Linked DNA regions of Homo sapiens. The protein of the gene in region 4 interacts with the protein of the main gene of each other region in a biochemical or structural test. Each region holds a gene or a part of one and is shown on either strand. Other genes may lie near its edges.

Region 1 (7,025 bases), on a different chromosome or scaffold from region 4:
CTCCAGTTGGGAATGAGTAGTTTTAAACTGTTTTAAGGCACTGTTTTAAAGGCACATTTGATGAGCTGTCTGCAGGATGGGAAAAAAATAAGGGAATAGGAAGCAGAAGGAAGCCAAAATTAAAGATAAGAAGTTAGATTGGGGATGGGGATGGTCAGTGTCAGTGGCTCAGGTGAAAAGCAGAATCAGGAAGCAGCGCTAGATCTTAATGTTGATTTATGCCACCTACATATACTACACTTTCTCTCACTCTTCTTTTGTCTTAATAAACATTCTTTGCAACCTCAAATCTCTATGAACTTGACATTGCTGGAGTTCCTCAGTCCATATTGAATGAAGAACAAAATATGCAAAGTGACCATAAAGTTATTTTTTTTTGAGGGGGTCACTCTGCCTTGTTTTATTCAGTAGAACTCAAGAGAACATATCGTAGAGATTTTCTACCAGAAACCCTGCCCAAACTTGTGTTACCCTTCAGGATTTTGTTCAGAATGAGTTAGAGTATGCCTGTAAAGGGATTTGGGTCTCTCCAAAGAAAGATAAATTTTATTTGCATTATCATATTACCCAGAGTCCATGATCTGCTGAGATAGGCACATTCCCAGCAGAAATGAGAACCAGCAGTGGGGTCTTATTGCAACATAGAAATATTTGAGCATGTATCACTTTAACAACATTTTGGTTAAGGAAAAAAATGTTTAAGCATTATTCTTGCCCTTGATAGCTATCTTAGTCTCATTTTACTGATTTGTACTGTATTATAAAGAATACAGTTAAGGCAGTTCTTGATTACAAGTATTATCTGAGAAATATTTAAAACTTGCTGCCTAAATTTGGTCATTAAAATTTAAACTAAGTTGAGAACTTCCTTGTTTGTCTTATTTGATACTGAGAGACTGCACAGCTCTGTAAAACCAAAGCTGGGCTCTGAGGTCAGAGAAATATGGATTTGCAGCCCATCTCAGTGACTTACTAGGTATAATGTGTGAAGAAAGTCTCTTAGCCTCTATATGTTTCAGTATTCCTGGCTGTAAAATAAGTAATACTCATTTTACACAGCTGCTTTGAAGACTGAGATAATGAATATTAGGGGACTAGTTTACAATAAGTATTCAACATAACATGGCAAATTTTAAAATGTGAAATATATACTTACTAAATAAGATGGTGGAAACTGATGTATACTTAGAAAAGGTCAAGCCATGGCACACAGCAAGATTGCATATTAAGAAGAAAAGAAATAAGTGAAAATTTATTACTCAATGACTGGATATACTAAGTAGTTTTTGTTTCTAACATTATTCATATATAATATCATAAATATGTCATTTATAAATACTGTCATTACTTATATATTGACAGTCATTCTATCCCAGGTGACTTAAAGCTGTCATTTTTAGGCCTTTACATTTAATAAAGCTTAGCTCAATTTTTCCTTGAATATCAAGAATAAAAATCGTTTTTGCTTGCGATTTGCAGCATTCCCTAGAGATCCAGAAATCGAGATGAGTGGTGGCCTCGTGAATGGGAGCTCTGTCACTGTAAGCTGCAAGGTTCCTAGCGTGTACCCCCTTGACCGGCTGGAGATTGAATTACTTAAGGGGGAGACTATTCTGGAGAATATAGAGTTTTTGGAGGATACGGATATGAAATCTCTAGAGAACAAAAGTTTGGAAATGACCTTCATCCCTACCATTGAAGATACTGGAAAAGCTCTTGTTTGTCAGGCTAAGTTACATATTGATGACATGGAATTCGAACCCAAACAAAGGCAGAGTACGCAAACACTTTATGTCAATGGTAAGTACATATGTGAGGTATCTACAGTTTAATACCTGTCTCTTTATCGTGTTTGCCAGGCAATAGTTAACATAAGGTTAATCGTTAAAACCTCTGTGGAGAAAAAACGTTACTGAAAAGAAATTTCAAAATAATGATGATTGTAACAAATCACCCTCCCTAAACTTAAAATAGTAACTATTTACTGGCTTATGATGCTTTGAGTAGGCAATTTAGGAAGGGACCAGCTAGGCAGTTATTCTGTTCAATATGGTATTAGCTGAGCTCACTCGTGCATTTTCAGTAAGGTTAGCAGGGCTGGCTGGTCTCAGATGACTTCACCCACATGTCTGGAGCCATATCTTGGATGACTTGGCCTCTCTTTCTTTATGTGGTGTCACCCTGAGGAACAGTAGCCTAGATTTACTCTCCAGAGCTCAGTGTTTCAAGAAGGTGTAAATGAAAGCAGCCTCTTCAAGGCCTGGGTTTGGAAGTCCTACAGTGTTACTTCTTCTTCCACATTCAATTGGTCAAAGTGAGTCATGAGGCCAGCCTAGAGATTCAAGGGGTGGAAAAATAGACCACATCTTTTCACAGAAGGAGATTCAAATAATTCACAGTCATGTTGACTCTACCATAAATGGCAGTACACACTATCATTGACCCTCGTCATTCTTTGGTTGCAAGGAAGTGTATACTGAACTTACTTCCATTAGAAAACACCATGACGTGTCCATGTTCTACTCTATCATTTGGTATCAGCTAAAGTAAATGAGGACCAAAACCTCTTGTGGTGAATTATCAAGGTTTACAAACTCTTTGAGTCTGCTGAATCCATAGCCCAGTTTTGCAACATTATTAAAACTCTTTGGAACTCAGGGCATAATAGGTCAAGCTAACAAGCGTCTCTGCCTTTTCAGTTGCCCCCAGAGATACAACCGTCTTGGTCAGCCCTTCCTCCATCCTGGAGGAAGGCAGTTCTGTGAATATGACATGCTTGAGCCAGGGCTTTCCTGCTCCGAAAATCCTGTGGAGCAGGCAGCTCCCTAACGGGGAGCTACAGCCTCTTTCTGAGAATGCAACTCTCACCTTAATTTCTACAAAAATGGAAGATTCTGGGGTTTATTTATGTGAAGGAATTAACCAGGCTGGAAGAAGCAGAAAGGAAGTGGAATTAATTATCCAAGGTGAGCAGAGTGTGAGTAATGAGTTATCCTTGCTAGTAATGTTTTTGGTTATGTTACTGATTATGAGTAAAGTCTTTGAAAACAAAATTTTTACTACAAAAGTGTGATGAGGGTTTTGAAGAGTTTATGATGTTTCCAATGTATGGAGAAATCTCCTGAAATTGTCTTTTCTCATGAATTGTTACAAGTTTCTTATCCTGAGATTCTTTTAAACTCAAGTGAAATGCAAGCCTTCAGGACCTGTGTCAGAAGTTCCAGTTACACTTATGAGGCAATGGTTATGGTATTGAAATAAGAATAGGAAGAGGAATATCTGCATTTGGGATTATGTAGGATTAAAGCTACCATATCTGGCTGAATTGAACTCTGAGTGGCAATCTCACAAGATGGCCAGTAGTATTTGCTTAGAAGCCTAAGCTGGCACTTAAGTCTTTTGCAAATTCTGAGATTATGAGTAGCCATGACTCCGTCCTTTGGTTCATCAGCCTGAGAGCATGGAAGCACTAAAGTAGATTAAGTCAACAGATCTAGGCCCCTTCTCTTTAGGATGGAGACCCAAGATTGAGAACAAGACAATTATTAGTTCGCAGGTTGAAGCCATACGGAGTTATGAGCAAAATCATCAGGTGATCAATGTGGATTTCCTCTATCCCATCCCTTTTGGGTATCAGGGTTCTTTTCTTTGCCAGGGTTGTCATTTTGTCTATTACCCCTTGGCATTATTCCCACTAAGATATTAGTGACTTTCTTGTTATCTCAACTCAATAAGATTTGTATTTTAGAAGAAGAATATTGGAAAGACAATACACATCCTTAAAAAACAGACAAACAAACAAAAAAACCTTTTGGATGGTTGTCATGACCTTGGATGGGGAAAGAATTTCAAATCAACTTACAAAATAGAAGACCTTAATAGGGATTAAAAATTGGTGATATGGTACCTGCCTCCAGTGGTTGTTGCATTAATAGAGATGTTATATGTCAAGTACTTAGCTCAGTGCTTGGAACTTAATAAATGGCAGTAGTATTGTTAAGGATAGTGAAAAAGCCACATCTGTACAGCTTAACTTCTTGATTGAAGAATCCAACTCAAAACTCAGAAACCTGTAAAGGCCTTTGTACTTCAAGGAAATTTTTTCAAAACAGTATTACAAAAAATTAAGTTTCTATTTCACATCTGAATTCTATAGCTCTTTATCAAACACTGTATTTGTCAATTTTCACACTGCTATAAAGATACTACTTGAGATTGGTAATTTATAAAAGAGGTTTAATACAGTTCCACATGGCTGGGAAGACCTCACAAAATGTGCAATCATGGCAGAGGAGAAAGGGAAGCAAGGCACACCTTAACATGGCGGCAGGCAAGAGAGAGTGAGGAAGTGCCACACTTTAAAACCAAAAGTTCTCGTAAAAACTCATTAACTATCATGAGAACAGCATGGGGGAAACAGCCCCCATGATCCAGTCACCTCTCACCAGGTTCCTCCCTCAAAACGTGAGGATTACAATTCAAGTTGAGACCTGGATGGGGACACAGAGCCAAACCATATCAAACACCTATTCTTTGTGCTAGGCTGGGTAAATAATTATATTAAGGAACATGAAAGAAGCATAAGCCATGTACTCTCTTAGTTAAAACATGATCATTTCCAACAATCCAGCAATGCTTGACTTCTTTACTTGCCCTTCTTAACATTTAATGCAAACGCTAAGCACAAATAGCTCCAGGGAAGCTATTGTTGATGTCGCTAAATTAATATGGAGTTGGTTTATATTTCACTCAATCAGGGATGTCTTTTAAATTCTCTTTACAGTTACTCCAAAAGACATAAAACTTACAGCTTTTCCTTCTGAGAGTGTCAAAGAAGGAGACACTGTCATCATCTCTTGTACATGTGGAAATGTTCCAGAAACATGGATAATCCTGAAGAAAAAAGCGGAGACAGGAGACACAGTACTAAAATCTATAGATGGCGCCTATACCATCCGAAAGGCCCAGTTGAAGGATGCGGGAGTATATGAATGTGAATCTAAAAACAAAGTTGGCTCACAATTAAGAAGTTTAACACTTGATGTTCAAGGTGAGTTTGTTTTGAGTTTTTGTTTTCTTGGTAATAGTTCAGAGGTTCCAAGGATTACTAAGAGTTTCCAATATTTGATGAATGAGTTGGCAAAATGGAGCTGTGGTTTATTTCTTAAGGATTCTTGGAAAAATCAAGCACAGCTGCTTTATCCTATAAAGTTTAGCCAGGAAGTTGACATTAATCATTCGTGACTGAGGAATTCCTGCTTGCTTTTTTCAGTTTACAATTTATCATTTGTCTCTGAGGTCTTGCAGTTGCTAAATGTTTAACCATATTTTCAAACCTTTTCCCGGGAGGTTATAAGGAAACTAAAGAAGTAGGATTGGCACATTGAAAAAGAAGGGTTCTATCCAGACCCTCTTCCTTTCTACCAGAAGGAAACACTATTTTCTGAACATGGAGTAACTGCAATTTTCTGGATTGACTCTTTTCAGGATAATAATTGGGAATAGTAAACTTGATCCTGAACAACATAAAAAAATCTCTCGACTATCGAAAAGCCTCATTAAAATTCCAACCCACTTGCCATCCTACTCTATTCTGGTGGACAGAGAAAGAGAGGAGCAGTATCCTCATTGGAGAAACTTCAGGGGCCCCTTAATCTCCTAAGCCCTCTTGTGAATGCACAGTAGGTAGGATCTGCTGATCTTATTGGTGTAAACAAAATACATCAGCCTTGGCTGATCAGTATCACACCCCTTGCACACCAATTAGCTGCTATTGTGTAATGGAGGCCATACTTGGCGGTGGAGTGCAAACAGGACTGCAAACAAATGCCAAGTCTTAAGAGGTCTGGCACTTGGCTATTGGAGTGAGCAATCACTTGTCAATGCAGAGAAAATTTGAATCTACATCAGAAACAGGTAAAATTTTTGTTCGTCTACCCAAATTTCTCAAAATGGCAAGCCTTACCGTATGTATGTTTTCCATCTTCACAGTACCTCCTCAAAACATGAGAATAGCTGTATAGCTATACATCCATCTAGAAATGTTAAAGAAGGGGAAAACATCACGATTATATATGAAACTTCTAGTCATCCACCTGCAGTGATTATCCTGAAAAGAATTGATCTAGCCAATGAAGTTACTATGTGTTCAAAGAAGGGAACATTTACTTTGTATCATGTCACTCAAAATGATTCAGGGGTATATGTAATCAGTGCTTCCAATGAGGTTGGGGATGATTCTGGACAGATTGCAATCTCAGTTATGAGTAGGTTGAATTTACTCATCCCTATTTTCTTTAATCCTTAATGCCTCTGGGCCACCTTTAATTAAGCCTAGCCCTGGGAAATTGGTCCCCTAACATTTCTGTAATTCTTTTGTTAATTAATTGTGACCTTTTAAAGACACATCAAACCTGCTTCTCTACTTTTTGACTCTGTCTCACACACATTGCTTTATTTTCTAATTGCTTTATCAAATTAGCCACTTACACAGTTGCTACTTTTTACTCATTATTTAAATGAACAATCAAAGAATATTAAGCGCTCAGCTAGAAACTCATGCCCCCAAACTGAATATAGTTTAAACTAGCTAAATTTTAATGAAGACCAAAAAATGGATATTTTTCTGGGTATTTTGAACTAGATTTCTTTTGCATTTGGCTGGATTTTTTATTTGTTTCATTTTGTCTTAGCTTGAACGTATTCCATTAATAGAAATCATCAGGATTTTTAAAAGATATTCAGTGTTTATATGACAAATAGAAAATTGTATTTGAAGGTTGCCCTGGCAACTACCTTGGCAGCAAATTTGTATTTTTCTGCCAATGCCTGTGGGGAAGACTGAAAGGCAAAAGATAATGTATATTACATTGAAAAGAAAGAAAGAAAAGAAATAGAAATAGTATTTCTGTTTCTCAGCATGTCATCAATATTGATGCCTATCCATAATCATGTTGATGGACATCCCATTCAAATATTACCTTTATACTTTGACTAGCTCAGCTCTAGCAAGGGAAAGTCAAAAA
Region 2 (7,025 bases), on a different chromosome or scaffold from region 4:
AAGCCAATCACTGAGACAACAAGTTTTGCCAAGGCTTTAATTGGGAGCTGCAGCAAAGGAGGTAGGAGATCAGTCTCAAATCCATCTCCCTGACCCGTTGAAATTAGGGGTATGGATAGAAGGAAAGAAATATAACTAGGTGTTGGAAAATGGACTCTGGAGGGGTAAGGAAGCAATCATGATAAATGAGGGGCCTGGTGTCTCATTGTCTGGATGTGATGGTCTGATGAGTTTCAGTTCTTTTATACCTTTTGAGAGGCCTGGGGGTCCTTTTCCTGGGGAAGGAACTCAGATAAAACAAATATAAGTTTCAGCTTTAAGATCAGGAGGGTCAATTTCCATGTTTATTCGAAAGAATTGTATATGGGACTATTGTGTTGGTTTCAGTCCCCCTCTTTCTATTTATCAATTCCTGGATCATGGGGAATCTGATCCTCAATCTTTCTGGCAGCTTCATGCTGAGGAATGGCGTGGTGGGCAGTTCCATACTATGGGTGACCACGTGGCCATCCAGGAATCAAAAGTTAATCTAATACTATAGTTTTCTTCTGAGACACAATCTGTATCATTACTGTTCCCCGCTTCCACCAAAGACATATCACAGCTGGATGGGCCTACCTGCAAAATAAGCCTCAGTTACATATACTTGGCTTATTTACCCACACAAAGTGCAGCAAAAATTATTGTCCATATGGGCTCTCCTAATTGGCTTTGCTGGAACCTCTCACAAGGCCATTTCAGTCAAAGCCCTGGGAAAATAACTTGTTCCTCCAACTGTGTCCCCTTATAAAAGAAAACAGATTTTTATTAAATGTATGCAAGAAAACACATTGCCATGAACTAAGAATATTCACAAATAGTTTATAAATTCTGGAGAAATTAGGGAGAGAGAAAATGCCTCAAATTCTGTTTAAAAGGGTATACTCTACTTAATATACTGTATTCTTAAAGGTTATGAAGAGCTTAAAAGAAAAAATTCTCCAGATTCCAAAAAACAAAAATTCTCCAGACTTTTTCAAACAAAACCATAAAAAATTATTTCAGTCCCACATTAGTTCAGTCCATGCAATCAACTCCTGCTGTGTTTCATATTGGGTTAGTAATCTTTATAAACATGTCAGCCTTTTAATTAAGAGGGACTCTAATTAAGAGTCCTAGAAGTTTTCTGTATTCCAGTGGCACAGTCTCCAAAGTTATCAGAAATCTGCATTCAAGACTCCTTTTCATGAAGTCCCCTAAATAAACAAGCTCTGGACTATATCTGATTATAAGTCACTTTTTGAAAAGAATCAATGCAAAACAACAATTGCAATGACAAAAGTCTTAGGAGAGCCATAAAGACACAGTTGACAAGGAAATTTTTTTTTCTGTTGGCATACAACAATTTAACATAATAATCATCATTACTGACACCATATATTAAGACATATCAGAATTTTAGGAATCTCATATAGTCCTGCAACACATATTAATAGCACATCTATACAAATATAACCCAAAGGAAGTTAAATACCACCTCACATTTGATAATGCTGCCTGTATAATTCTAATATACCAAAGAAGCCTAACATGTCTGTCTGTATTGGAATTCAAGGAAGCTAATACACAAAAAAGTTAGTTTGAGGTTAAAAAAAACCCCCTGAATTTAGAACTTGAAATATTTGCTGTTGGGAAGTCTGTCAGTATCAAAGATTTAAGACACTTGATATCACAAAATAGGATCACAGGTCGCTACAAAATAGTTATTCATTTAGCCAAAAAGATAAAACAAACACATTTACCCTTTGATAGGCGACTCAGTTTCCCAACAATAAGGCCTAATAAAGACAGCATGAGGCCAACTAAATGTCTCTCCCTCTTCCTTTTCTTCCCCCCACAGTTCACTCAAAAGGTAAACAAATATTTTATGTCAATATTATACAAACATTTTATTCAAAAGAGAACATCAAATTTTACCTTTGTATGGTATATTTTTAATGTTAAAGCTAATTTTAATAAAACCTTATAAGCCGAATTTTAATCAGTTTGACTATAAGATAGGATTTCTGTGAAGTTTTTTTTTTTTTTTTTTTTTTTGAGATGGTGTCTGGCTCTGTTGCCCAGGCTACAGTGGTGCGATCTTGGCTCACTGCAACCTCTGCCTCCTGGGTTCAAGCAATTCTCCTGCCTCAACCTCCCTAGTAGCTGGGATTACAGGCCATGCCACCACACTTGGCTAATTTTTGTATTTTTAGTAGAGACGGGGTTTCACCATGTTGGCCAGGCTGGTCTCCAACTCGTGGCCTCAGCTGATCCGCCTGCCTCGGCCTCCCAAAGTGCTGGGATTACAGGCGTGAGCCACCACACCCGGCCTGAGTCACCAGCCCCGGCCTGAGCCACCACGCCCAGCCTGAGCCACCACACCCAGCCATCTTTTTATAACGTTTTACGATTTCCTATTAAAGAGTAGAGTAATGCTCCAAGAAAACCCTGTTATGACACAGGGGCCCAGACATTGGCCTTGCATCAGTGTGCTTTTGATGTTAATGTTTAATTTATAGAAAAACCCTGAACTAATTTTATAACTCAAAATCAGCCCTTACAAGCTCACGTGCTCACCTTTTGTGCAATAGTTCCTGGGCGTAGAGGGATTGAATGGTTTTAATTTCTAGCCCTATGTCTCATGAAAGCAGTTCATTTTGATTGTCACCTTCTCCTGAGTCTGAAGACGAGGCTTCATTTGGTGTCAGTGCTCAAGATTTAGCAGGTATTGGTGTCTTTTTTGGATCCAGGAGTCAAAGGCCTTTGAATTACTAAATAATTGTTTCCTAAGAATTATTTAATAGCATATTTATACTGCAGGAAACCTCATCATTCTCTCTAATATGTCACAAAATAAAACCCTGGGATTTGGTGCCTAGTAGTTACTGTCTGAAACACTTCAACCCATTATACAATCCATTGTATTAAAGTGGTTAGGTTACTCCTTGCATTTATCTGCTAGCATTCTAGTGACAAAACTGTGACCTAGAGCCTCAAAAATGTGGTAAGTCCTGTGCCAAACTTACCAAAGTAAGATAGTTAACTTTTCTTTCCATCATTAAAAAAAAAAATGGTAAATGCAAGTATCAGTTTTGGAAATTCAATATGAAGATAAATCTTTCATTTAAAAAGTATACAACAAAACAAGGACAAAGTGACAATAAGCACACAGTAATTTCTTTTCAGCTATTTTGAAAGAGCCTCATCATACATTTCCAAGATTGGTTTCTAGATAAAGTACTGACAACTGATTTAAGTGACTTACACCACTAGAATCTTCAAACTGGCATAACACTTGTATGTACATATTTTGTTTTCAAGTATACATGTGAAGGCCCATCAGTGATAAATGGCTTAGGATAAAAAAAACACTAGAAAGTCTTATAATTTTTTTTATGACTTAATCCAAGTAAATGTTATTTAATCTTAATAATAGTAAACACAACTAAATTAGTTTGAGAGAAAGCCCAATCAATATAATTTCCTTAAAGACAAAGCCAATTTTTTTCTGAATATTAAGACTTTGTACCCATATAGCAGTTTTGCCTCATTAAAGGAAAAGATCTGAAACCGCTATTGTTTATTGAATTGAATTACCTTGGAAATAAACACCACTTAAACATTTCTCTCACCTACTTTTCCAAATAACCAATAATAATGTACTATTTCTGTTCAGAACTTAGAAGAATAAACCTTTTATTATTTTTTGCCAGGAATCTTAAAGTTCTTATAGCTCTCTAGTTCATTAGAGGTAAGCAAAACCAAACAAATTTTAAAGGCTGGTGTCCACCAACAATTTTTGGAAGCTTGAAAAAGGTAGCTTAGGAACTTTGGATAAGTAGAGCAAATGATGAGATACTGGAAATGCATAGGAAACAAAATGATTATTCATGGAACCAAATAAAAGCCTTCCTTACATTAGAAACTAAAAGCCATCAATGGTTTTATTAATATGTATATATAAGTAAAACCTAAAGAAGAAGAAACAGCAAATAAATGCAAATTAAAAGAAAAAACAAACAGGAAACCAACCTGAAAATTTTCTACTCAGTTTAACTTGGAGGCTATAGTGTTACCCAGAGCCAAAAAAACACATGATGAATATTTTGTTCCTGATGCACAATTTAATGTCTTTAAGTTCACCAATACCACTATATATTTTGTGCAATTAAGAAATTCACTTTAGGCTGGGCGTGGTGGCTCAGGCCTGTAATCTCAGCACTTTGGGAGGCCAAGATGGGTGAATCACTTGAGGCCAGGAGTTTGAGACCAGCCTGGCCAACATGGTAAAACCCCATCTCTACTAAAAATACAAAAATTGGCCAGGCATGATGGCACACAACTATAATCCCAGCTACTCTGGAGGAGGCCGACCAGTAAGTATTATACTGTAATGATAGTATATCTATGCAGAAGAGCAAATACAGTGTGAAGCAATGCAAGCATGTAGGTGAAATTTGGTTGTTGCTATATCTGGCTTTTATCTGGCTTCATGGTTAACTATATTAAGAAAGGATTGCCAAACTGCCAATGTGTTTCTTTACAATATTTCTTATTTTACTTTCATCAAGACTAAGAGCTTTAACTATGAGCAGTGTTAATTAGCCAGATTTCTCCAATATTCTATCTGGTTTTAAGAGAATATTATTTAAGCCTTTTATACTTTGTATTTTCTCTGTCTGTACATAAAGGTAGACACACAAAGAAATAGGAAAGAAACTACATGACTTACACACACCATCTATGATATGCTTAGACTTTCTGATTTGTCCTGGATTTTCGTTCTTTTTCTTCTTCTTTTTTTTTTTTTAAACAGTCATTTTACTTTAGGACAAAAAAAATACCATTATAAGATGCTTTGTCATACAAAATTATTTTCTTTATAACCTTCCTTACCAAAAATACATCTTTATACTCATAACTTTCTCCACATCTCTCTCGTCTACTTGTTCTTTTCTACCTTGTTTCATAAGTAACCTTTCAAGTCCATAATTATTAATAAACTTTAGATAACTTCTGAGTTAGATAAAATTTTTTTCTGAATAAAAACACATTGTCTTTTGCACATTTTATATATAGAATTACATATGAACTAGAATTCTTATCCTTAGTAACAACCTTAAATTTCAGTAAAAACCTAGGAAGCAAGAAATCTTGAGCTGCCTAGCAGATATTAGTATTTTATAGATGAGAACCATTCCACAATTTTTAGAAACATGTTCCCCACATCATAACCTTTTCTTAATTGGAAATGACTCAAACATCCAATGATTATATTTCCGATTATGCCAAAAGTTCATTTACAGCATTTGACCATTTACATTTTATTTATTTTTAGCAGTTTATCTAGATTATTTCTGCATCATTTCCTTCTTAACCATTTTATAACCTGTGAATGTCAGGTGTTCACCTAAATAACCTTAAAATTAATACGTGGGCATTTTGATCAATAACTCAGAAGATTCAGCTGTTTTCATTAAACTAACAGCATTAAATTAGTCTTATAAAGAATTCACACAAATATTCACTGGGTTTATAGCTTTATAACCTGCTGCCAAACTCTGATACCTCAAATTATCTAGCTGAGACAAATATAAAGCCGAGACAAAAATGTATGCTGACAATTCTGAAGACATTTCTATTTTTATTTTACCAATAATTTTAAAGACAGCTTGTTTATTAAAGATTTACTGAAGTCATGTGAACTTGAAAAACACTTTGGACTTAATTTATGAGCACTCTTATTTATAAGCCAATTTGGTAGGTATAGTGTATAACATAGTTAATGTACATCTAGATAAACACATCTAAACATGTATACACACACAAAGATCCAACAGCTTTTACCTTGGAACTCTAGCCATGAGATAGCAATACAAACTCACGAATCTACAACCAAGTCCACATGGCTAAAATTTGTTTGCTCCAATCGGTAATCCAATGAAGGCTGTGAACCAGAATTTTGGGTAAAGCAGTTTCCATGGCAGTTTGATTTTTAGAAGCTAGATTCCAAAGAAACCTGGGGCCAAACAGCACTACAGAAGAACGTCATGTGGAAACTACTCACCAGGCCCAACCCTGCTTAAAACAGCGGCATAAAAGCCAGAATACATGGGACTCCACCTGGCTTTCCCATTCAACAGCCAACTCCAGATTCCAAAGAATATTGGGGCAAACGTAGTACAAAAGAATATTTGTTTGTTGAATTCTAATTTCCCATTACTATATTGACACATACAATCAACAAAACACAATCCGACTGCTGAAGCAATAGACAAGCCCGAACAGTGTCCAAACTGAAACAGTCGAGGTGCTTTTCTCTCTCAATCGGGCTTTATTAACCTGCAAACAGAAATTTCTTAGGAATTTTCCAAATTGAGAGAAGCCGATCCCACTGTCTGGTACCCAAAAAAGACACTAACTTGGCCAGACACAAACACAGAAATTACAAACACGCTCTCTAGAGTATCATACTGAGAGTCAGGGTGCTTCCCTTTCTTAGTCAGTTGGGCTGGTTTAACCTGCAAATGGAAGCTCCTTTTAAAATTTTCAAATTGAGCAGATCTTGCTGTCTGGGCCAAGAAAGGACACTCACTTATCCAGATGCCAGTGTCACATTTCAAAGGCTGTTCTTCCTAGCAATCAGGAACTCAGCTGGGGCTGGCAGCAGCAGGGCCAGAGAGACCAAAACTCACTTCCAGCCAAAATTGGGTGGGCAGTTGCTTAGGAGGGCTTCTGAGACTCCTAGACCACAGCAACCCAGCCACAAAAATCTGTTACTGAAGCACCAGGGGTTTGGCCTAGGTCCTCCTGGTAGCCACACAGAAAGCCAAACAGGGAGACAACAAGTATTGCCAGGGAAGAAGCCTTTAATTGGGAGCTGTAGCCAAGAAGATGAGAGATTAGTCTCAACTCCATCTCCCTGACCCACTAAAATTAGGGGTTTATATAGCAGGGAAGAAATGTAACTGTGTGGGAAAACAGGAACTCAGGAAGCAATCATG
Region 3 (7,025 bases), on a different chromosome or scaffold from region 4:
AAATTATGTAGAGTAGACACAACATTCAGAGATGCAATTATAGGCTCCAAAATATAATTTATTACTGGGATTAAGGACTAATTCCAATCTAATAATCAAGGAACATGACTAAGGATGCTCCCAGCTTTATGTGTAGATGCCTGCTTTATGTGTAGAAGAAGGTGGTAGTATGATCCACGGATGTCAAGTTGACCTTTGATATGCCTCATGTAACATGGTTATCTCAAAATCATTCTCTGTCAATGATGGTAAATTGTTATACTCTTTCCATGTCAGTTTTCCACTTGGAAAATGGAATTTAAGGAATGAATATCAATACACCTTTTTCTCTGTTATTACACCAACTTGATTTAGAAGCTCCTTTTTCCTATATTAGGACAAATGTTGCTGATTGTGGGTTAATGAGATCCATAATAAAACAATGTTAAAATGCTATATTTAGCAAGCAATGCTACATATTACTTTCATGAAATTTTATACCACATATTTATGCTACAATTTAATGCTACATATTTTTTACATGAAAAAGAGTTCTACGTTGAATAAAGTGAAAGGGAAAAATAATTGCATAAATATTGAAAAATGTCTCTTTTCCAGCTATGTGCCAATCTTGATGCATTTACTATTAAAACTGTTAAAGAAAACCTTGATCAACTGAAAAACCAAATACAGGAGCCATGCAAGAAGTTTGCCATTGCAGATGCAACCAGAGAAGTATGGGCTTAATGTTTTATATCTATTGATTGACAATACTACATTCAGTAGAAAGATGGCAAAGGCTATTTTATACTGACCATCTGAAAAATATTATTTAAAAATTTTAGCAAACAAGTTTCAGGTTTTTTTTTAATTGATGTTAGGCAGTAAAGCACTACAGTGAATTCTCGCCTCTAGACCTCTTTTAGTTTTCTAATTTACATGAGGAATAGCTTATTCATTGTTTGTACATATGAGTTAAAAGGGACAGTGAGGGGCCATGGGCAGAGGGATGTGTAACTAAGCTGGAGGGGTTATGACAGTTCGTTTTAGCCTTTTTAATTTTCTTCGTGAATTCCAGGATTGATTTTCTGACATTCCACAGAGCCATTTTGTTGCTATCAAATTACATTTGGCAATGATAATGGGAATCCTATCTAATTTGCATACTTGCATATTTACTTTCTTAGGAAAACAGTGCAATGGTAAAGAAGTGAAATATTTACTTTAATGATGCTTTTCTGATGAATTTTTCAGGAATTATAAGAATAAACTGAGAGTCAATTTGGACATTATGGCCAGTAAATTATGTCAATACTTTATTTTGTAAAATTTAGAAAGCATTACAAATTCTGGCCATATGTACTTGATAATACCATTGAAAATAAGAATGTTGGGATCAAATGATATGAAATATGCATAGTAGATAAAACAATGCTTGAAATATAGTAGGCACTAAACCAATGTTAGTAACTAGCCTCCGTATATCTCTTTTTTTAAATTCTGAAAAAGACTGCTATCTACTCCAGCTGCACTAGCACAGTTGAATATATTTTATTCACTTTCCTTTTTTTGTTACTTATTTGGTTTTACTTGATAATTTTAAATGCATGTTTCTACTCATAAAGATTTTTAAAACTAAATTTCTCAGGTACATTTTTTAAAAGAATTTGCCATTTTTTAAACTTACTTTAATTTTTTTATATACCTTGAAGCATAACATACATACAGAAAAGTACAAATTCATATGTGTACTGATTGCTGAATTTTCCTAAACTGAATACACATATGTAAACAAAATCCAAATCAAGAGACAGCACACTGCCAGTATCCTAAAAGCTCCTGGCTCCCCCTTCCAGTCACCATGCCCCAGGAATCACTACTATCTTGACTTCTAAAACAAAAAATGAGTTTTCACTGATTCTGAACTTTATATAAATGGAATCATATAGCATGCACTCCTTTATTTCTGGCTTTATTCAGACTCTACTTCAACTTTTTATTTTGGTCGAAATAATACTGAAACCAGTTTTACAAAGGAGGAATGTTTCTTAAATTACACTGTAAGCTTTCTAAATAATTGTGGCATTAATGCAATATGTGTTTTCTAAGTTACCTTTAACATACAAGGTTTATATAATTCATTAACTTTACTTTTGTTAACCTTTTAAGTTGGAGATTCCAGCAGAGGTAACAGGGTGTTGGTGTGGGTGTGGCTTGATGGCAGGCTTAAAAGAGAAGCTGACAAAAATAAATGTACAGACAAGTGATGGGACACTAACCTGTTACTTTGTCTAAACAAAGATGAATCAGATTTATTATAACCTAGAAATTATTCTAACAAAGATAATGTTATTCCTTTAACAATAAGAATACATAAGAATAAGTGTGTACTTTATTTTTAGGATCCATTTAAAGAGAAACTTCTAGAAATAATGACAAGGATTCAAACTTATTGTCAAATGAGTCCAATGTCAGATTTTGGAACTCAACCCTATGAACAATGGGCCATTCAAATGGAAAAAAAAGGTAATTTAGGTTTGGACCTAACACTTAGTTTATCCCATGTTTATACCAAGATTTTAGATGACTATATCACAGATTCCCCAAAAAATGGAAAGCAAAAGTAGTTCCAAATAGAATTTCTGTGTTCTCTGTAGGACAAGCATAATAAACATGTTCTAATTCCTTTTCTAAGGAGAGAGATTCCAATGCTATCCAATTTTCTCTTTGTCTCCAGAGTCTTGAGATAAACTTTAATAGCTCTGTCTCCAAAGGCAAACTCAACTAATATATTTTCATGCCATTTCTCTGTGCATCAGCTACATGTTTTTGCTGAGGCAGAACTCAAGCAGCAAGTCTAGGAGTTGGAAAACTTGCCCTGTTTCAGAGCTCAGGACACATTTTGAGCCTTAACTTGCCCATTTTAAAACCAAGGTGAAGCCAGTTTTGCAGTTAGTAACATATATTCAAGTCCATGGCACAATTTTAGGGGGTTTATATGCTTATTATTTCACTTACATAATATATTTTTTCACAGCTGCAAAAGAAGGAAATCGCAAAGAACGTGTTTGTGCAGAACATTTGAGGAAGTACAATGAGGCCCTACAAATTAATGACACAATTCGAATGATAGATGCGTATACTCATCTTGAAACTTTCTATAATGAAGAGAAAGATAAGAAGTTTGCAGTCATAGAAGATGATAGTGATGAGGGTGGTGATGATGAGTATTGTGATGGTGATGAAGATGAGGATGATTTAAAGAAACCTTTGAAACTGGATGAAACAGATAGATTTCTCATGACTTTATTTTTTGGTAAGATTCAAAGTAACATATACTGGTGTCATTCATTTACCTTTTCAACATGAACTTACTGCTTCTCATAAGCTCTCCAAAAAGAGAAATATCTTTTGAAAGAAGAAATCCCACTCAGATTGGAACTATTTCTAATGATATGACCAGATTAGCTACCAGTTGTATGATCACAGTCAGTCATTTGGTCATTCAGTTTTATTGTCAAGACAATTGTAATGAATTTATTTATTAAACCATCCTAATTATTAGATATAGCGCAAGATTGTAGATGAGCCACAATTCATGAAACCTTCTAGTGTAATTCGTTGTATGTTTTACTAATTTATACTTCCAAATAGTTTTTAAATTAATTAATTTTTAATCAATAAAACTGTATATTTTTGGTGTACAAAATGTTTGATATATCTGTACATTGTGGAGTGGCTAAATCAAGCTTGTTAACATATCAACTCTAATTATTTCTTAAAGAAAACAATAAAATGTTGAAAAGGCTGGCTGAAAACCCAGAATATGAAAATGAAAAGCTGACCAAATTAAGAAATACCATAATGGAGCAATATACTAGGACTGAGGAATCAGCACGAGGAATAATCTTTACAAAAACACGACAGAGTGCATATGCGCTTTCCCAGTGGATTACTGAAAATGAAAAATTTGCTGAAGTAGGAGTCAAAGCCCACCATCTGATTGGAGCTGGACACAGCAGTGAGTTCAAACCCATGACACAGGTATAAATATCCTTTTGGACGACTTCTTTTCTTTTCTTTCTCTTTTCTTCTTCTCTTCTCTTCTTCTCTTCTTCTTTTCTTTCAGACGAGGCCTCGCTCTGTCACTCAGGCTGAAGAGCAGTGGCATGATCAAGATTCACTGCACCCTTGACCTCCTAGGCTCAAGCAATCCTCCAGCCCCAGCCTCCTGAGCAGCTGGGACTCTAGGTGTGCACCACCACACCCAACTAATTTTTTTATCTTTTTTGTAGAAAAGGTGTCCCACTATGTTGTCCTGGCTTGTCTTAAACTCCTGGGCTCAAGCCATCCTTCTGCCTCTGCCTTCCAAAGTATTGAGATTATAGGCACGAGCCACTGCGCTCAGCCTGGACTTCTTTTCTTATGCTGTTATTACTCTTCTCAAATTGTTTTTAGTCTTTTTCTACCAATCCTCTCACCACCCATGAATACATTTACAGGATAAAACACCTGTTCTTGAAATAAAATCTAAGGCTAATAGCAATCAAATCTGTGGTTTTTGAGAGGTTAAGTGTTGTTTTAGGAGTCATTTTTCCCACATAATAATTGGAAGAACTTTCTAAGTTTCCCTTGCAAAAATAAGTGACATGTAAGCTTAACAACAAAGTTCAGAAATGATTGCCATGTAGTATCAAGTGGAAAATTCAAACTCCCACAAAAATGTGTTCGTTATAACTAGAACTATGCAAAATATATTTACATAGAATGAGACCTCTAGGGAAACTTGAAAAAACTAAAGAATTTGATATATTAGAGATTTGGGATTCTGGTAAGTAGGTTTTCTGTTCCATTTTAAGGTGTTTTGTTTTACTTTGTTTACATGTTGCTTACTGTGGGCATAGTAAAAAAACACTTGGGTAAGAAAAAAAGGCACTAGTAGACATTACAAGCATGCATGAAGCAATGATGCCTTGTTAGAGTAAAATATTCTTCTGAGGGCTAAAATCACATTGACCCTGAGTCTTTCTGGACAAATGGATACTTCCTTTCTATTATAGTTATCACTATTCAAGCCAATGGAGCAAATTAATTCTGTTTCAGTGTTTGCTGGAAAAAAATTCTTGAAATGGTTCACTATAACTCTTTATATACCCTCTACATGCACTCCTGTGAGCATTGCCAATAAAATTAATGCCAGAGAAAGTACTGTTTTCCTTGGGTAACAAGTTTGCTTCCTTCTTTTTGATGAGATGTAGTTTGCTTTATATGTTTTTCTTTTTGCCTTAGCTTCCAGAAAGCTAGCAGGAAAAACTCAAGTTCAGTCTCACAGCCTCTGTGTTGATTCTTATGAGTTCTGTTTTTAAATTTCTATTATATTAACTTTAGCGTTGTGACTTTTATTGTAAGAGGGCTAAGCTTCTCTGTAAAAAGAGGTAGAGTGCAAATGAAAAGCCTATGTTCAAGCTACTTTCTGCTCCTTATTCATTTCAAACCAAGGGGCTGTGTGCCAAAATACAGAACATATTCCCTTCCTTCCCCACTCCTTGTATCCTCACCTTGTAAACTGGGGTGGACAAACTCCTTAGCAATGGTGTTAGGCATCTATGTGATGTGACTTGAAGATCTGACACTGTCTGGAATTTTTGTTATTAAAGTTACTCCTTCAAATTAAGACACAGGCATCTTCTGCTAAAATCCAAGAACATGTAAGTTTTTATCGGGAGATGTGAGGGCCGGAGGGAGAAATTTTCAGAGAAGACTCAAGAGAGGCCTTTCTACAGGGTTCTCCGACAGTTAGGAGTAGGAGTCAAATAAGGACTCACACTGCCTCTGAGAAGAAAGGGAAGGGGATGGAAGAACATACTTTTGGTCTGGCAGCTTTATTTTTGTTTAATGTATGGGGGCAATAGACAGTGTGGATGTGCACCAAATGCCAACTGGACCAACAGCTTTGATGAGAGTGGTTATGAAAATAAAACCACATTGTCCATATCAAGCTAGGTTTGTGCTCACTCATTTCTCCCATGTAAGGATGAGAGGTCATATTTTAATTTATTTATATTGACTTTCAAAATTCAGAGTTTTTTCATTTGAAAATAGTTTTATTTACAGTTGCATAACCTCTTCTTTCATTTTTATTTATATTGTCCCTTTGAATTGATAATATATTTACCTCATTCAAAATTAATGAGGCACAAGGCATACCACTGACCTCTAGTCTTCCAGCTCCCCTCCCTAGATGCAGCTGATGTTTTCAGTTTCTCTTGTGTCCTTTTGGGAATATTCCATAGCTTCTAACTCAAATGATTCTTAAAGTGACCAAATGCATATACAGTGTGCATTTTCTCTGTGACTGAAAACAATATATCAAAGCATCTCTGCATCTTATCCTCTAAATAGCAAAGATTCTGAAGTTAATGTAGTGGGGGAAAAAAGCCCATTTTAGCTTCTGATTGTCATATCCTCTTCTCAACCGACAGCTCCTCCTTTCTTCCTCTGGAGTCACCCATCAATTTATTTCCTTGGCATAAAATGTGGTCTTCCCACCTCCAGACTGGATGATGGAAATATTTTTGTTATTGTGTGGTAATCCCAGATTGGAAATCAAATGTTGTCTCACCATTATGTCTTTGTTCAATGCCAAAAACAGATGGCAACAAATCCATGTATGATCTAATCCTTTGATTTACACTGACCAGTTGCAATTTATTATTTCTTCCTCTAATTAGAAGATTTTAATGTGTTTAGCATCACAAAATTTAATTTATTAAAATGTTTCTACAGAATGAACAAAAAGAAGTCATTAGTAAATTTCGCACTGGAAAAATAAATCTGCTTATCGCTACCACAGTGGCAGAAGAAGGTCTGGATATTAAAGAATGTAACATTGTTATCCGTTATGGTCTCGTCACCAATGAAATAGCCATGGTCCAGGTACATTCAAATACCTCTACTTACTATGTTAATTTTTATTTGTTGTGTTCCTATTTTAATTGCTTTCTTTTAGTTAAACAGCAAAAACATCTTTTTAGTTTTTAAAACAA
Region 4 (7,863 bases):
CCCCTGCACGTGGCCTACGCTGTGGGTGAGGATGACCTGATGCCTGTGTACTGTGGCAATGAGGTGACTCCAACCGAGGTAACCACTCACTTGTGCCCCTCCTCCCTGCCCTGTGCAAACACAGACACATCCCATCTCAGTGTCACAGACACTCCTGGGTTTGGAATTTTGTTGTTCTCTGTCTCTTTGATTTCCTGGAAGACGACACCATGACAATTTCAAAGAAAATAGAACAAAATGAAGGAAAAAGAGGCTCTGTCTTAGCACATTCCTGTGACCAGCCTGCTGTCTGTGGTGTGCCCTCCTGGCCCGGCCTTGGCACATGTTCGTTTTTGTGGTTGTTGCCTGGACAGGCAACTCTGCAGGGCTGCTTCTCTACGCATCCCTTTGCCTGCCTGCCTGTGCCAGGGGTTGTCAAGGGCTTTTGGGTCAGAGTGGGCACCCCTTTCTCCAAGGCTCCCTGCAACAGCTGGCCTGTCCCTGGTGGGGCTGACAGCTTCCTTCTCACCCTGCCAGGCTGCCCAAGCGCCAGAGGTGACCTATGAGGCAGAAGAGGGCTCCTTGTGGACGTTGCTACTCACTAGCTTGGGTGGGTGTCTGGGGCTCACCAGGCCTCCTGCCCCGCTCACCTCCTATGAGCCAGGGCCCTGGGGGGCTGGGGGAGGGGCCAGGTGGAGATCTCCAGCGCTGGCTCCTAACAAGGGAGGGGGTGGCAGGGCCGTGGTCGGCTGGGCCGTGGTCAGCAGGTGTGTTTTTGTGCAGATGGGCACCTGCTGGAGCCAGATGCTGAGTACCTCCACTGGCTGCTGTGAGTACTGGAGTACTGGGGGTAGGGGGTGCTGCCCAGGCGGGAAGAGGAGCTGGGAGCCTGGACTGAGCTGCTCCTGAGTTTCATGGACTACCCATGGGACCTTGAATTCACCTGCCACCTCTGCCTCCTGAGGGTGTTAGGGGCCCTGGGATCCACGTGTCTACTTGAAGACAGCTACAGGAGACAAAGTTTGCAGTAGGCCTCGGTCAGTCCCCACAAGCCTCCTCATCTTTTCTTTTCTTTTTTTTTTTTTTTTTTGAGACAGGGTCTCACTCTGTCCCCCAGGCTGGAGTACAGTGGTGCAATCATGGCTAATTGCAGCCGCTAACTCCTGGGCTCAGGTGCTCTTCCCACCTCAGTCTCCTGAGTAGCTGGGACTACAGGTGCAAACCACTACACCCAGCTAATTTTTGTATTTTTTTATAGAGACAGGGTTTCACCATGTTGCCCAGGCTGGTCTCCTGAGCTCAAGCGATCTGCCCGCCTCCGCCTCCCAAAGTGCTAGGATTATAAGCGTGAGCCACCATGCCTGGGCCCTTCGTCTCTAAACTCATTTCTTCACCTGTAAAACTGGGATAATGGCACCACATGCCTTACTCAGCGTGAGGTGGACTGTGACAGTCACGTGGGAGAAGGAGCGGGAGAGGCCTAGCAGCTGTGGCGTCCCCCAGGTGCTCCTTGAACCACTGGGCGCTCCTTCCCTGGGCCCAGACTGGGCGGCCTTCCATCTTGGTAGCTTTTGGCTCTGAACACCAGGCCAGGGGGCAGAGGTCAGGCCAGTGACCCCAACTTTGAGCCTTCTGGTTAACTGGGGACAGTGACTGGGAGGCTGGTTTCCGTCATTTTTATTCAACTGTTACCAGCCTATGCGGCAGGACCCTCTGGGGATTTGTGCCTGAGGCGTTGGCCGCCCCTGTGCCAGGCTGGGCACACACTCCCTGACGAGGTCCTGGAGACTTCAGGACGCAGAGGGAAAAGCAGCCAAAAGTGGCCTGGCTTTCTAGCCTCAGTGACTGTGGCGGACCCACCGGCTCCCGGGGCCTGGAAGCGGCTGCATGGCCTTGCTGTCAAGCTGATGCTCTCTGGAGCCCTGTCCCCCACTCGGAGCTCCTCCAGCCCGCTTCCCGTATTTGCAGCATGTCCCGGCGTTCACAGAGCTTGGCTGCCTCCTCTGTCCCAGGAGAGAGATGCTTAGAGCTGTCCTCCCAGGGAGTCATGTCAGCCTCTAGGGTGTGCATGGAGCTGAGGGGACACTCCTGCTGCCTCCCTGGAGTGGTAATTAACCGGGACTTTCCTCCTCCCAGAACCAACATCCCGGGTAACCGGGTGGCTGAAGGACAGGTGACGTGTCCCTACCTCCCCCCCTTCCCTGCCCGAGGCTCCGGCATCCACCGTCTTGCCTTCCTGCTCTTCAAGCAGGACCAGCCGATTGACTTCTCTGAGGACGCACGCCCCTCACCCTGGTAATCTACACCACCCACACATAACCCGGCCTCAGGCCAGCTCCCCTGGAACGGTCACTCTTGCTCAGTTCTCTCTTGACCTCAGCCTTGAGACTGGCAGAAGAGCAGGATAGGGTGCTAGCAGACTCCCAGGGGCCTCTCAGGGTTACCTGTTGGGGTGGCGGGGTGAGGGGCTCTGGTGCCCCACTCCACACTCTCATACGCTCTCTATCTTCTCATAGCTATCAGCTGGCCCAGCGGACCTTCCGCACTTTTGATTTCTACAAGAAACACCAAGAAACCATGACTCCAGCCGGCTTGTCCTTCTTCCAGTGCCGCTGGGATGACTCCGTCACCTACATCTTCCACCAGCTTCTGGGTAAGGGCCATGGGGCTGGGGCACTGGGTGGGCCTGAGCTCCCAGGCCTCGCCTGCCCTGCCAGGGAGAAGCTTTGTTAGGGGAAGGCTGCGGCAGGTCCCTGGTGGGCAGGCCTCAGCCTGAGGGGGCGCAGGCCAGCAGACCACCCCGTACCCCTCACTCTTCTTGCAGACATGCGGGAGCCGGTGTTTGAGTTCGTGCGGCCGCCCCCTTACCACCCCAAGCAGAAGCGCTTCCCCCACCGGCAGCCCCTGCGCTACCTGGACCGGTACAGGGACAGTCATGAGCCCACCTATGGCATCTACTAAGGAGCCAGAGTGTGCGCATTTCAGAGCATGGGATTGATCGGCAGCAAGAGTAAAGACACAGCTCCAGAGGCCCACACTGTGGGGTCTGGGCCCTGCCTTAGGCAGCCCCCCTCTTTGGCCCCCTCCCGTCAGGCCCAGGGCTTGGAGTGAAAGTGACTCTCAGGTGGTGGGGTGGGGAATGTGAATAAACATGATTTCTTGCCGGGCTTGGTGGCTCACACCTGTAATTCCAACACTGGGAGGCTGAGAAGGGAGGGTCGCTTGAGCCCAGGAGTTCAAGACCAGCTGGCAATATAATGAGACCCTGCCTGTATTTTTTAAAAAAAGGGATTTCTGCCATAGCTGGCCTGGGTCGGTGCTCCAGGGCCAGAGGACCCCGATGGAGCTTCATGGGTGGGAAACGGGCTGCCTCCCACCCCACTAAGTGCGTCCTCACCTCCGTCTTCTGAGGGTGTCAGGGGCCCTGGGATCCGAAGCAAAAGCAGGCAGTGGGCCAAAAACAGGTGTGGCCCAGGGAAGGGAGACATCCCAATCCAGCAGGTTCCTGAAACCCAGCTCCCCGAAAAAGTGGAGCAGAGCAGCTGGGCTCAGGAAGGAGCATTTATTGAGCACTGGCTCTGTGCCTCAGGGGGGTCCCACCGGCCCCTGGAGAGAGAGTGCCTGCCCGAGCACTGACCCTCTGCACAGGCTCCAGCCCCCACCCCATGCTTGGGAGGAGAAGCCACATTAGGTAGGCAACAGCGTGTCTCAAGAGACCTGCTCAGGGTCAGAAAACCCATGGAGTCTTGCGGCTGGATGGTTAGGTGTTTTGTTTCTCCCTTACCAAAAGCAGAAGTCTGGCTAACTAGTAGGTGGAGGGTAGATCCGTGCACTTTGTCCAGAAAGAAACTTCGTCTATGGCCGCACAGAGGACGCAGTGCTTGCTGCAGCAGTGAGAGCTCGTGCCGCCTCAACATCAGCCCAGCTTGGTTAGAAAGGCCGTACTCTCCTGGGGTTCCCCCTGGCCTGATACACACTGTCAGGTAGGTGGGCGCTAGGCCCCAGACCCGCCTTGCCTGCTCAGCTTCAGGGGAAATGCTGGAGTGCCTGTAAATACTGAGGCTGCAGATCAGCTTGGACCCCAGGCAAGGAACTCTCCCCAGCGGAGGGCAGCAGGAAGAGGGGATGCTGATTGCAGATGAAAGCTGGTTTGTGTATTCATTCAGGGCCATTTGAAAAATACCAGTTAACTGGTCCCTGTCTCTTGGTGACCAGACATTTCCATCTCGCTGTTTACTTTAAAAGAACCAAAATTACGTGTAGCCCAGAGAAGGGAGACACCCCAGTCTGGCAAGTGTCCGAAACCCAGCTCCAGGAAAAAGTGCAGCAGTGCTCGGGTCTGCAGGGAGCCCGCCAGCCCGTTTCATCGCCAAGCCCCGGGGGATTGTTGGGGGTGGGGGTCTATGCTGTTAGGCGACTGGCAGATGAGTCCAGAAGAGGTTCCGCGCGGCCCGTGGTCAGAAGCCCGGAGTCCTGGCGGGGTTTTCGAGCCTCTGGTCTCCAGGACCTGGGCTGAAGGCCCAGGGGGGTGGGATGGACCCGCCAGGCTGGGACCCTAGAGAGCCGAACTCAGCTCTCAGCCGGGGTGGCGTGGACCCTAACGGAGGGAGGGGCGCAAGGCGGGAACGCGGAACCTTCGAGCGGGCCAGGCCGAGGTGGGCAGGGGTGGCCTAGGCCCCTGCGGCGGTCGCTCGTCGAGGGTGTCAGAGAAGGGCCTGCCGCCCCCCTCCGCCTTCCCGGGCGCGGATCTCGCCCCGCCCCGCCCGGATCTCGCCCCGCCCCGCGTTAGCCACGCCCAGGCGCCCTCAGCGCGCGAGGCCCGCGGTCCCTTTAAGACGCCCGGGGCCCGCCTGGCTCTCGCCGCCGCCGGGCCATGGCCGCGCAGCTGCTGGAGGAGAAGCTGACCTGCGCCATCTGCCTGGGGCTCTACCAGGACCCAGTGACGCTGCCCTGCGGCCACAACTTCTGCGGGGCCTGCATCCGGGACTGGTGGGACCGCTGCGGAAAGGCGTGCCCCGAGTGCCGGGAGCCCTTTCCCGACGGCGCCGAGCTGCGCCGCAACGTGGCCCTCAGCGGCGTGCTGGAGGTGGTGCGCGCCGGGCCCGCCCGGGATCCCGGCCCCGATCCCGGCCCCGGCCCCGACCCTGCCGCGCGCTGCCCCCGCCACGGGCGGCCGCTGGAGCTCTTCTGCCGGACCGAGGGCCGCTGTGTGTGCAGCGTGTGCACCGTGCGCGAGTGTCGCCTCCACGAGCGGGCGCTGCTGGATGCCGAGCGCCTCAAGCGCGAGGTGACGCATCCGCCGGGAGCGGGAGGGGTCCGGACCCGCCGCAGCCTGGCCACCGCCGGGTGACTCCTGCGGGCCGCGCCCTGCTCTCTCGGGCACCCGGCGGGGGCGGGGAGCCTCATCTGTAAGGGGCTTCTCCCAACCTGGGAGCTGATTATAAAAGTCGTGGGTCTGCCAGGCGCAGTGGCTCACGACTGTAATCCCAGCACTTTGGGAGGCCGAGGCGGGCGGATCACGAGGTCAGGAGATCGAGACCATCCTGGCTAACACGGTGAAACCCGGTCTCTACTAAAAATACAAAAAGTTAGCCGGGCGTGGTGGCGGGCGCCTGTAGTCCCATCTACTCGGGAGGCTGAGGCAGGAGAATGGCGTGAACCCGGGAAGTGGAGCTTGCAGTAAGCCGAGATCGTGCCACTGCACTCCAGTCTGGGCGACAGAGCGAGACTCCGTCTCAGAAAATAAACAAACAAAAAATCGTGGGTCTGTGCATCAGACTGGGATATGCAGCCCGGCCAGTGACACAGGGTGGGTCTCAGAAGCTGCTCGGTGCCCTCTGGATGAACAAAGCCTGGGCGTGAGGCAGCAGCTCCCTGCTCCGTGCCCAAGCGCTAGAGAACCGTCGTGTGTCTCCTGCGCTCCGAGAGCCTCCTTTCATTCGCTGTGCGGGGTTGTGGAGGGCGAGGGGGCTATGGGGGCTGTTGGTAAATGGATCAGACGAGCTCCCTGCCCTTAAGAGACTTAGAATCCACTTAAGAAGTCAGTGTTCCAGTAAGGCGTGAATGTATTATTACAAAATGCAGTGAGGAAAGCACATGGCATGTGATAGAGGGGTTGGGGTGACCCTGCTAAACGGGCCAGGAGGAGGAAGGGGAGGCCGCCTTCAGGCTGGCATGTGAGGATTGAGGAAGCGCAAGCCAGGAGAAAGACCTGGGGAAGAGCATTCTAGGCAGAGGAATCAGCCTGGTCCCGTCTCTGGGATGGGAAAGAACTGGGCACGCGGGGTCCCTAGTGGCAGATTTGTGCCACTGAGATCTGTGGGCCAGGCCCTGGGGGTCAGCAGGGGCAGGATCGGGCAGGGTCCTGGGGGAGTCTGGCTCTTACTGTAGGGTCATGGGGGCCATTATAGGCTTGGAAGCAGGTTGGCACATGATCAGATTTGGGCTTCATGGAGACTGATCACCTGGCTGGGGGCTGAAGGGGGCAGGATGTAAGACCCGAATCGGGTAGGAGTGCAGGGAGGCAAAGAACCAGCTGGGGATCAGGGAAGGGAGACCAAGATGGAGGAGGAGATGAGAAACGCTGAGGGGAAGTGGTACCTTGTGGAGGCGAAAGCAGGCCAGAGGGGACACGGGGGACAGCAGAGAGGGCGGCAAGGGAGACACCTGGGTTTCTGTCTTGAGCACGCAGGTGGCTGGGGTGCTATGTCCTGAGAGGCGTAGGTGGAGGGCAGAGTTTGGCCTTGGACATATAGAGGTCACAGTGGCCAGTGGGACAAACCAGGGGACGGGCCTGTGGCACCTGGGACCCTGGCCCCAGCCCTGCCGCGCGCTGACCCCGCCCCGGGCAGCTGCTGGAGCTCTTCTGCCAGACCAAGGGCTGTTGTGTTTGCAGCTTGTGCACCATGAGTGAGGGTCACCTCCTCAAGTGGGTGCTGCCGCCAGGAGCAGGAGGGGGCCGGACCCCCCGCAGCCTGGCCACCACCGGGTGCAGTGGCTCACGCCTGTAATCCCAGCACTTTGGGAGGCGGAGGCCGGTGGATCACGAGGTCAGGAGATTGAGACCATCCTGGCTAACATGGTGAAACCCTGTCTCTACTAAAAATACAAAAAATTAGCCAGGCCTGGTGGCGGGCGCCTGTAGTCCCAGCTCCTCTGGTGGCTGAGGCTGGAGAATGGCGTGAACCCGGGAGGCGGAGCTTGCTGTGAGCTCCAAAGCTCAGGAGCGGGGAGCTGGAAGTCGAGAGCTGGGAATCATTAGCGCTAGGAGGAAGAGAAGGTTCCAAGCTGGAGCTCCCAGGGAGATGGGGAAGGTCGGGGGAATGGCAGCCCTGTGTGGCACCTGGAGACAGGGGTGCCAGGAAGAGAACGGGCAGGATGCCCATGCTGATCAGAGGCTCAGTACGAGGACAGAAATGACCTTCAGCATCGGTACTGTGGAGGTGGTCCGTGCCCTTGACAAAACCCATTTCAGCAGCGAAGACAGGATGTGGAATCATTCGGGGACAGAGGAGGCCTGGGGCTAAGGCGTGGATGGAGGATGGCGCAGGGACGCTGGATGGGACAGGAAGGGAAGGGGTGGCCAGGAGGCCTGATGGGCAGGGAGGGATGGGAGAGTGCACGGCTGGGGGTCGGTGAGGTGGGAGGACTGAGACAGAGGTGGCTGGAACAGGAGAGGGCACGAAGGCAGTGGTCAGAGAAGGAAGAATCGATGCCTAGAATGGAGATTTTAGAGCTGGTGACAGGGCCAGGGTGAGTTCACAGGAGCGGCTGAGATGAGGTGAAGGAAAAGGGCTCCAGAGTGTTGCGGGACATTCCTTGTAGCTGCTGAAGCCGCCGAGGAGGATGAGACGAGATGTACTGCTCATGGGCGGGTGCAGAAGA

Evidence for each region.
Region 1: the proteins of TRIM65 (region 4) and VCAM1 form a complex in vitro, tested with the Homo sapiens proteins (one study listed by BioGRID).
Region 2: of the proteins of TRIM65 (region 4) and RIGI, one has a biochemical effect on the other in vitro, tested with the Homo sapiens proteins (one study listed by BioGRID).
Region 3: of the proteins of TRIM65 (region 4) and IFIH1, one has a biochemical effect on the other in vitro, tested with the Homo sapiens proteins (2 studies listed by BioGRID, with this or other methods).

Annotation. Positions count from the first base shown.
Region 1 is NC_000001.11:100,729,719-100,736,743, forward strand, and holds part of VCAM1 (vascular cell adhesion protein 1 isoform a precursor), read left to right. Parts: intron 1-1,479; coding exon 1,480-1,800; intron 1,801-2,699; coding exon 2,700-2,966; intron 2,967-4,783; coding exon 4,784-5,050; intron 5,051-7,025. UniProt on the Homo sapiens protein: Cell adhesion glycoprotein predominantly expressed on the surface of endothelial cells that plays an important role in immune surveillance and inflammation.
Region 2 is NC_000009.12:32,516,191-32,523,215, reverse strand, and holds part of RIGI (antiviral innate immune response receptor RIG-I), read left to right. Parts: intron 1-7,025.
Region 3 is NC_000002.12:162,273,685-162,280,709, reverse strand, and holds part of IFIH1 (interferon-induced helicase C domain-containing protein 1), read left to right. Parts: intron 1-597; coding exon 598-714; intron 715-2,381; coding exon 2,382-2,505; intron 2,506-3,016; coding exon 3,017-3,295; intron 3,296-3,763; coding exon 3,764-4,023; intron 4,024-6,765; coding exon 6,766-6,915; intron 6,916-7,025.
Region 4 is NC_000017.11:75,893,927-75,901,789, reverse strand, and holds the start of TRIM65 (E3 ubiquitin-protein ligase TRIM65), read left to right. Parts: upstream 1-4,838; 5' UTR 4,839-4,852; coding exon 4,853-5,266; intron 5,267-7,863. Other genes in the region: MRPL38 (large ribosomal subunit protein mL38 precursor), read left to right, coding at 1-78, 517-589, 763-808, 2,116-2,274, 2,496-2,632, 2,804-2,940. UniProt on the Homo sapiens protein: E3 ubiquitin ligase that plays a role in several processes including innate immnity, autophagy or inflammation.